2 linked regions of the Homo sapiens genome follow. The protein of the gene in region 2 purifies or fractionates together with the protein of the main gene of each other region. This does not show direct contact. Each region holds a gene or a part of one and is shown on either strand. Other genes may lie near its edges.

The links.
Region 1: the proteins of MTO1 (region 2) and FAM170A purify together in Homo sapiens (co-immunoprecipitation; one large-scale study listed by IntAct). This does not show direct contact.

Annotation. Positions count from the first base shown.
Region 1 is NC_000005.10:119,631,767-119,636,952, reverse strand, and holds the end of FAM170A (protein FAM170A), read right to left. Parts: intron 4,206-5,186; coding exon 4,065-4,205; intron 2,994-4,064; coding exon 2,219-2,993; intron 1,926-2,218; coding exon 1,919-1,925; 3' UTR 1,867-1,918; intron 1,254-1,866; 3' UTR 1,131-1,253; downstream 1-1,130. UniProt on the Homo sapiens protein: Acts as a nuclear transcription factor that positively regulates the expression of heat shock genes. Binds to heat shock promoter elements (HSE).
Region 2 is NC_000006.12:73,477,316-73,482,236, reverse strand, and holds part of MTO1 (5-taurinomethyluridine-[tRNA] synthase subunit MTO1, mitochondrial), read right to left. Parts: intron 2,506-4,921; coding exon 2,393-2,505; intron 2,302-2,392; coding exon 2,111-2,301; intron 1,945-2,110; coding exon of another isoform or gene 1,870-1,944; intron 1,563-1,869; coding exon 1,432-1,562; intron 1,241-1,431; coding exon of another isoform or gene 1,121-1,240; intron 209-1,120; coding exon of another isoform or gene 198-208; coding exon 1-197. UniProt on the Homo sapiens protein: Component of the GTPBP3-MTO1 complex that catalyzes the 5-taurinomethyluridine (taum(5)U) modification at the 34th wobble position (U34) of mitochondrial tRNAs (mt-tRNAs), which plays a role in mt-tRNA decoding and mitochondrial translation.

The sequences.
Region 1 (5,186 bases), on a different chromosome or scaffold from region 2:
CATTATTGAAGAATGAAGAAAGAAAAAAAATGCTTGAACAAAGAAAGAAATACACCACGGCAGTAACTACTAAACTGAAATATCTATATAATTCAGCACAGCAATGGATGTCTGGGTATACATTCTAGAGAGAGACACACATTCTGTGGTAATAGAGGAAATTTGGATGCAACTGAAATTTCATCAAAAAGACAATAAATAAAAAGTTGGCATATTCATAGAATGAACTATAATACAGTAGTAAAAATTAGTTAACTACAGATATGTGTATGACAATGGATAATCTTAAAAACCTGTTTTTTAATAAAAACAAGTTGAAAACTAATAATGAAGTACAATAGTATGTGAAACTTTCAAGATATTCAAAACACTTTATATATTTATATAATAGTATAAAACATGCACAGAAGTATTAAAAAATACTCAAAATCCATATGTAAGGCAATGGAACAGGGGACTATGGCTGTATTTGTAATCATTTTTACTTCAAAGCCATCTGAAGCAAACGTAGAAAAATGCTAAGCTTAATAAAGCGGGATGATGGAAACATAGGTATGTAGTGGAGTTTGTCATGGTCTCATATGAAATGTGATATCCAGCCTTGAAAAAATTGTCACACAGAAGTCTAATCAAACCCAGGAGCTTGGCTATTGCTGCCTCTGGAAAAGGCTGGTAGATATCTTTAGTGCTGATGTAAAACTTCGTTCACAAACCACTGGAGAGATAGATGAAAATAATGAATAGGGCTGGGCGCCGTGGCTCACGCCTGCAAACCCAGCACTTTGGGAGGCCCAGGCGGGTAGAACACTTGAGCCCAGGAGTTCGAGACCAGCCTGACCAACATGGTGAAACCTCATCTCTACTAAAAAAATACAAAATTAGCTGTGTGTGCTGGCACATGCCTGTAATCCCAGCTACTTGGGAGGCTGAGGCAGGAGAATCACTTTAATTCAGGAGGCAGAGGTTGCAGTGAGCCGAGATCATGCCATCGCACTCCAGCCTGGGCAACAAAAATGAAACTCCATCTCAAAAAAAAAAAAAGAAGAAGAAGAAGAAAAAGAAAAAGGAAAAAAAAAGAAAATGATGAATAGATAGGTAGATTAATTTGTTAATTAAATAATATATCCAGGTAAGGTTTGAAACACAACCTTTATTACGTATGATGTTTACATGTTAGACTGAGTGCTGGTCCCTCATCTGCTTCATACCTTGGGCAGCCTGTCTGCTACTATCTCCATGGCTCTTTCTTCTCCCTGGAAGTGAAGAAAACAATTGAGGCAGAAGAGGAAGAGGCAAGAAACAATACAAGCATTGCTAGTCAGTTACCCTTCACCTTTGTTTTGAAGCTCAGAGTCATGCAACCCACAGTGAGTTCATTTCCAGATCAAATGCAGCAAAATGAAGGTTCTGAAACATTTCCAGTTCTCTTGGTGTCTCATCAGGATGATGTTGTTACCTCTCCAAATTCCCCTTTTCCCCAAGGGCTATATCTATGGGCTCAGGTGGGATCCCAGCTCAGGCCAAAGGCTCTCAGACTCCACACCTCTGATCTTGCTGGCATCCTGTCCTTTCAGGCCAATCCTGGCCCTTGAGGTTACACTGAGCTTCCGCTGCCTAGAAGAGCTGCAGCACCTCCTCTTAGAATTGAGGACAATCATGCAGACATTGAGAAAGTTCCCAGTCAATGCTCTTCACCTTGTCATCTAAGCAAATGGAGGACAATTCCCCCAGAAGCACCAGGTGCACGATAAGTTGATGTGGCTGCAGAGCCACCAGGTGACCCAGTGCATCCCTGCAGCTCCTTCCCTTGGATTCCTCTGGGCCCTCACAACACAGCCTCAGAAAACTGCAAGTCTCACTCCTTACCTCTTGCAAGAGAAGGCCACACCATCTTCCAGTATCTTCTGGCCCATAAGTCTCAGCTGCTGTGTGAAAATCAAACCAAAGAAAGACACTTCTTAGTTAATGCGACTTTTGAAATTCTCAGAATTTCCTGCAGGAGCTGGAAAGGTCAAGACAAATCCTGACTTACAATCGAGACTTTATTAGATGCCTAGGCAAGAAGCAGGGATCCCAGTTATGTCCCCCTCCATTGTTCCCTGAGCCAATAAAGCCCCCAAATCTTCCTTACAGAGACCTAAGCCTGAACTGGGGAGACAGTACTGGCTCGGGGAAGCCATTGCTCCCTCAGCAGACCCACAACCCAGGCTTTGCTCACTTCCTGTCCTTTGGAGAATGAAACACACAGCCTGGACATTGGCTCCAGGATCTCCTCAGGCCAAGGTCTTCTTCTGTGGGCTGCCCCTCCTCCTCCTTTGCTTCTGGTTTCTCTTCCTCCTCCTTCTCATTTCCATTTTCCTCCTCCTGCTCATCTTGGGTGCTCTCTGATTCCATGTTGCCTGTCAGCTGAGCCATGGTGAGATGAAAGACGTGGCAGCTGAAGCCCTCTCTGATCCCAAACTGCACATGCTCCTGGAGGGCTTCCATGGTGGTGAACACCCGGCAGCAGGCCATGCACCTGAAGCCGTTCTCCATGGTCACCAGCCAGTCAGGAGTCTTGGCTCTGGGTGTGTCCTCAACGGTGGGTGAGCCTGGCAGGCTGTCTGATTCTGTCCTTTCCTCATGCTCTTTCTCCTCCCCACTGGGCTCACTGTCAGACAGGAGGTTTCTGGTGGACACATCAGAGGGGGGAGTACCTACCCTCACAACCTCAGAAAGGGTCACTTCTTCCATCCTTGGCTGCTTTTCTAAGGACTCCAAAGTTTCCTCTGTCTCCCAGGAGACAGCCACACCTTTGTTCATTTGTACCTGCATGTAGTATATTTTCATGCCCCTTTCCTCTTTGTTTACACACAGAGAGGACACACAAGTCTTATAGGATGAATAGGACGACAAGGAGACATGTTGTGAGCGGGGAGGAGTCTCTCCTCGTTCCTGAACCTGGGCCAGGGGTGATTGAGGCTGGGGGCTGTCTCGATGTATTCTCTGGATTCCTGGGAAAGGAAATTAGAAACATGAGCAGATGCATGGGCCATGCTAGGAGCTGAGGGAACGTAAGTTAAATATGTGTGGTGCAGGAGACAGGGACTGTGGTGAGATGCAGCTGTGTAGTGAGCTTGGTATTTGTTGTTCATATTGTGGGGTAGTGATTCTAGTGTCATTTGCGTGTAGGGATGTTGGTGGGGTGTCCATATACAGGGGTGTGGAGTATGGTGGTGAGGACTGCAGCATATGTGGAATGTCGGCAGCATGTGTGTGCTATGAGGATGTGAGTTGGTGCCATCATTGATGTGTTATTTGTGGAATGTGGGAGGTAGTGTGGGAGAATGGCACTGCAGGTCATGCATTTGGGTGGTGTGTGTGCAGAAAGTGTACCTGTGGAGCGTGTGGCTGTATGTGTGAGGTGTGTGGGCCTGAGCTAGAGTCCCGCTGCAGTGCTGGAGGCCTGGGCTGAGGAAATCTGTCTTTCTCTGGAAGGCAAAGGCAGAGCCCAAATAGTTCCGATGAAAGTGCTTAATCTGGTCCTGTGGCCCTACACCCCAACAGCAGACTTTTCTGGCCTCTGCTCCCTGACTGCCTGACTGCACACCAGGGCTCATGCTCTCCTACACTGAGCTTATATCCATGCTCTTCTAACAGCTCTGTCATCTTGCCCAGACACCTCTGCAGAGCTCTGATCATATCCAACTGCCCTGGGTTTCTTCTTAGCCTCATCCTTGGATCTATGGGCCTCCTGCCCCCTACCCAAGGAGCCCTGCACCCAATCCCATGCCTAAGGAGTCCAGCACCCAAAGAGTCACATACCCATAGCGCCCTGCATCCAGAGTCTCATGCTCAAGGAACCTCACACCCAGAGAATGTCACATCCAAGGAGCCCCACACCCAAAGACTGTCACACCGAAGGAGCCCCAAACCCAAAAAGCCCCACTCCCAAAGAGTCTTACACCCAAGCAGCACTGCAACCAAAGAGTCTCATGCCCACAGAGCCCCACACTCAAATATTTTCATGCCCAATGAACCCCACAGCCAAGGAGCCACGTGCCGAAGGAACCCTGCACCCTTACCACTGTGGATGAGCTTGCGTGAAGAAGAAACGCAGGAGCAGTATTCGGAGGTAGAAGTAACTTCTCCCACCCCTTGGCTCCAGCCTTTGGCCACTCTAGTGGATCCAGGCTGCAGGGCATCCTCTTGGGACTTTGACATTCCTGAGAAAGGTATGAAGGGAACAGAGATATGATGGATGGGTAATGTTTGTGCATCATTTACCATCCAACAAATATTTACTGAGTGGCTGACCTATGTCAGGTGTAGTGAACACACATGGTTTGTGAGACAGGCTTCTGGTGGATACTCCAGTATTTAATTACAGTCAACAGGTATTTTGATAGTGTATCAATAGGAACATAGGCCTGTGTGGTGACTATGAGTACGTCTGAAGCGTAAGAGTGATACATACCAGATAGCCTTTGATATGTGTAGATTTGTGTGGGTATATTGTAGAAACATGTGTCTGTGTCTGTGGAGTTTGTGTGCATAGTTTTGTGTTTACAACCCTGAAATTATGCAATATGTAATTTTTCCTGATTGTATGGTGTGGCTTGTATTTATAATGTACATTAATTCATTCATCTGGCAATATTTTCATGAACAGCTACCATGAATCAGACACCAGTCCACTCTTCTAGGCTCTAGGAATACTGAACAAAACAGTCCTTCTTCTAAGTGGACTTTCCATTCTAGACAAGGAAGACAGACATTAAGCAGAAATATATAAGTATATCATAGGTCAGCTCATTATGAATTTATAAGGGTCATCAGATTTAGCAAACAAAAATAGCTGATGCCAAGTTAAATTTGAATTTTAGATAAATTACAAATAATTTTTTTAGCGTAAGTATGTCCCGTGCAATATTTGTCATACTTATTTTTAGTGTCAGTATGTTCCATAAAATATTTGGGACACACTTATACTAAAAAATCATTGGTGGTTTATCTGATATTCAAGTTTAACTGAACATCCTGTATTTTATCCGGCAACCCTAATAAGGGGATGGTGGTGAATCTTTGTTTCGTTGTGGTCTATGCAAAGCAGGCCTGGCTCTGCTACACAATGTGTTGCAGATATGGCATGTATGATGTGTGACTGGCTCTTAAAGAGGTATTTAGAGATAGTTTAACATAGATGT
Region 2 (4,921 bases):
GTGAGCCGGCTGTCAGCATTATCAGGGCGCAGTGACAAACGGAACTCTACTCGGCTGGTAAACATGCGGTATGGTTCACTGGTGCCCAGAGTAGTGAGGTCATCAATCAAGACTCCTATGTAACCTTCTGTTCGGCTAACCACAAAGGGAGGCTTGCGACTGACCCGAAGACTGGCGTTGATTCCGGCTATCACACCCTACAAGAGCACTGAAATGTTTAAAAGGCCATTATGAACTAAACAAACGGCTATCCCATTCAGAACACTACTCAGAAACAATGGCATGGGACAGGAAGAAAGCAAGTATTGCCCCTAAGGGATATAATAGAGGTAGAAAATGTGATCCATATTCAGAAATAGAATATGGGTAATATATCACTTTAGAAGGCTATGATTCATTGTTTTCAGAGATATCCATCTAATCTTCCTGATAAGCTGCACTCTGCGGGGACTAATCTTTTTTTTATCCGGAGACAGGGTCTTCCCCTGTTACCTAGGCTGGGGTGTAATGGCATAATCTTGGCTCACTGCAGCCTCGACTTCCTGAGTTTAAGCAATCCTCCCACCTCATCCCCCCAAGTAGCTGGGACTATAGGCACATGCCGTCACACCTGGCTAATTTTTACATATTTTTGTAGAGATGGGGGTCTCACTACATCACTCAGGCTGGTCTCGAACTCCTGGCTCAAGCAATTCTCTCTCCTCAGCCTCCCAGAGTGCTGGGATTACAGGTGTGACGCACCATGCCCAGCCGGTTAATCTTTTTTTTAAAACCCACCTGTGAAACTTCTCTAGCCTTTTCCCACTTGCAAATAAAAATAAAATAATTTCTGACTTACAAGGAATAATAATATAATAATTTCTAATGAAGTATATTAAAATAAATTTTAAACTTCACAAGCAATACATCTAATCAAAATATGATATCACACAGGAGCTCAGAAAAGAGTAATAAAGCCATAGTGTTTTAATAATCCTATTATTGGCTGGGCAAGGTGGTTCACACCTGTAATCCCAGCACTTTGGGAAGCCAAGGCAGGTGGATCACCTGAGGTCAGGAGTTTGAGACCAGCCTGGCCAACACAGTGAAACCATATCTCTACTAAAAATGCAAAAATTACCTGGGTGTTGTGGTGCATGCCTGCAGTCCCAGCTACTAGGGAGGGCTGAGGCAGGAGGATCGCTTGAAGCTGGGAGATCATATCACTGCACTCCAGCCTGGCAACAGAGCAACACTCTGTCTCAAAAAAAAAAAAAAAAAAAAAAAACCCTATTATCTACAAAAGCCATCTCCAAACACCCTGAAACATAAATTGTCTTCTATTAGTATGAATTGTATCTAAGATCTACATAGTTAACACAACAGACATTAAAAGGAGAAATACCAGTTAAATAGTCCCTTTCAGTTTACATTAATATCTTAACTTCTTACTTGAGCTGCAGCTTCCTCATAACCAGTGGTGCCATTGATCTGTCCAGCAAAGAAGAGTCGTTGAACCAAATGAGTCTCCAAGGAAGGGGTGATCTGACGGGGATCTAAGTAATCATACTGAACACCGTAGCCTGACCAAAGAACAAAGACATTAAATAAGTAAATACAGAGCTGGATTTGCTCAAGGTAGAGATGCAAGCATTACCCTTAAATGCCCTTTAAAAACAGACTATTTAGGTCAGGAGCAGTGGCTCACACCTGTAATCTCAGCACTTTGGGGGGCCAAGGCGGGTGGATCACCTGAGGTCGGGAGTTTGAGACCAGCCTGACCAACAGGGAGAAACCCTGTCTCTACTAAAAATACAAAATTAGCCGGGCATGGTGATGCATGCCTGTAATCCCAGTTACTCAGGAGGCTGAGGCAGAAGAATCACGAACCTGGCAGGGGGAGGTTGTGGTGAGCCGAGATCGCACCATTGCACTCCATCCTGGGCAACAAGAGCAAAACTCCGTCTCAAAACAAACAAACAAACAAACAAAAAACAGACTATTTAAAATGTATAGGTGTTGGGCTTCATCTTCTGAGGCTCTGAACAACAATGACTGTAGCTAAGGCCTCCTCACTGACCATTAAAACAATGCTGACCTTATACTGAAGGGCACTTGTGATCTTCTTTACCTGGCTGAATCACTTTAGCTTTCTCCAAGCCTCTGATGCATGTGATCATTTTCTCTTGTAACTCAGCTGGTAGCGTCATAGATAACCCCTGTGGGTAGATAAGGTCAGAATCCATTCCTTCAGGTTCCAACCAAACCTGATGTAGACGGTTTGGAAAACGCAAAACTTTTGATTCAATGGAGGGACAGTATCTAGAATAGAACATTTAAATAAACTTGAAATGAACAAAAGAGGATTGACGTCATTCCTTAAAGTAACTGAGCACTGACATTTTGTCCTTACCGAGGTCCTCTTGTCGTTTCTTTAACATGACTATTAAGGTGAAGGTTCTTAAGGACAATCTCATCCACTCTAGGGTTGGTGTGAGTCAAGTAACATGGCAGCTGATCTTCTGGCTAAAAAACAGTAACCAGATGCAATACTGATTTGCTTATCTACTAGTTTCTCTCTTATCCAAATAAATTCCACATGATACGTACTGACTTTAATAGACACTAAACTTGTGCATAATGCCTAGTATTACTTATGAAGTATTCTTGCCAAAAATAAACATCCCAAAAGATGAAGTTAAATTTAAGCAAAACTCTAAATCTAACTAGCAGTTTAATTTTTTTTTAATGTTTTTATTTTTTGAGACGGAGTCTCACTCTGTTGCCCAGGCTGGAGGGCAGTAGCGTGATCTCAGCTCACTCCAACCTCTGTGTCCCGGGTTCAAGCGATTCTCCTGCCTCAGCCTCCCAAGTAGCTGGGATCACAGGCATGCACCACTACGTTCGGCTAATTTTTGTATTTTTGGTAGAGACAGAGTTTCACCATGTTGGCCAGGCTGGTCTCGAACTCTTGACCTCAGGCGATCCACCTGCCTCAGCCTCCCAAAGTGCTGGGATTACAGGTGTGAGCCACCGTGCCTGGCCATGGTTACTTTTTTAAAAAAGTTATTGCCAAGTGCAAGTGGCTCACACCTGTAATATCAACACTTTGGGAGGCCAAGGCAGGTGGAGCACGAGGTCAGAAGTTTGAGACCAGCCTGGCCAACATGGTGAAATCCTGTCTCTACTAAAAAGACAAAAATTAGCTGGGCATGGTGGCGGGTGCCTGTAATCCCAGCTACTCGGGAGGCTGAGGCATGAGAATCACTTGAACCTGGGAGGCGGAGGTTGCAGTGAGCCGAGATTGCACCATTGCACTCCAGCCTGGATGACAGGGCGAGATTCCGTCTCAAAAAAAAAAAAAAGAAAAAAAAAAAGTGTTTTTGTGCCCACCCAGGGACTCCTTGCTTTGTTTGGGCTGGGCGCCGTGGCTCACGCCTGTAATCCCAGCACTTTGGGAGGCCAAGGTGTGTGGATCACCTGAGGTCAGGAGTTTGAGAACAGCCTGGTCAACATGGTAAAACTCTGTCTCTACTAAAAAAATCCAAAAAATTAGCCAGGCATGGTGGCAGGTGCCTGTAATCCCAGCTACTTGGGAGGCTCAGGCAGGAGAATCGCTTGAACCCAGGGGGTGGAGGTTGCAGTGGGCCAAGCTTGCGCCATTACCATTGCACTCTAGCCTGGGCAAGACTCTGTCTCAAAAAAGAAGAAAGGGTTATCATAATTTGCATACTACCAAAGCAAATATATAAAAGTATCTTGCTCAAAGTAACAGAATATTTGAAGCCATACATCAGGATAACACTCACCAGAAACTAGGACCATCAATTATTTTTTTTTTGTACAGGCAGGGTCTCATTATGTTGCCCAGGCTGGTCTTGAACTCCTAGGCTTAAGTGATCCTCCTACCTTGGCCTCCCAAAGTGCTGGTATTACAGGTGAGAGTCACTGTGCCTGGCCAATTCTTCATCCTCAATCTTAAACACATACAATATACTTTTTTTTTTTTTTTTGAGACAGAGTCTTGCTCTGTCGCCAGGCTGAAGTGCAGTGGCATCATCTCTGCTCACTGCAACCTCTGCCTCCCGGGTTCAAGCAATTCTGCCTCAGCCTCCCAAGTAGCTGGGACTACAGGGGCATGCCACCATGCCCAGCTAATTTTTGTATTTTTAGTAGAGACGGGGTTTCACCATGTTGGCCAGGATGGTCTCAATCTTTTGACCTTGTGATCCACCTGCCTTGGCCTCCCAAAGTGCTGGGATTACAGGTGTGAGCCACCATGCCACGCCACATTTTTTTAAAACTCGAGAGATAGGTAAAAGTGGCCTCTACACTTCAAAAATGTCGGCACCATTAAAGATTGACAAACTGTTCCAGATAAAAGACTTTAAAGAGAAATGACAATTAAACGCAATGCATGACCCTTGATTGGGAATAAAAAGGTTGTTTTGGGCTAGGCTTGGTGGCTCATACTTGTAATCCCAGCACTTTTGGGGCCCAAGGCAGGCAGATCCCTTCAGTCCATGAGTTTGAGACCAGCCTGGGTGACACTGCAAAAACTCATCTCTACAAAAAATACAAAAAGTAGCCAGCCATGGTGGTGAGCACCTGTGGTCGCAGCTACTTGGGAGGCTGAGGTAAAAGGATCATCCAAGCCTGGGAGGCGGAGGTTACAGTGAGCTGAGATTGCACCACTGCACTCCAGCCTGGGCAACACAGTGAGATCCTATCTCAAAAAAAAAAAAAAAGCTGCTTTGGACAATATTTACCAATTAGCAAAATGTGACTACGGACTTTATGTTAGATAATAGCACTGTATCAGTGTTAAATTCTCCGAATTTCTTTTTTTTTTTTTTTTTTTTTTGAGACATAGTCTTGCTGTTGCCCAGGCTGCAGTGCAGTGGCACAATCTCAGCTCACTGCAACCTCCCCATCCCTGGTT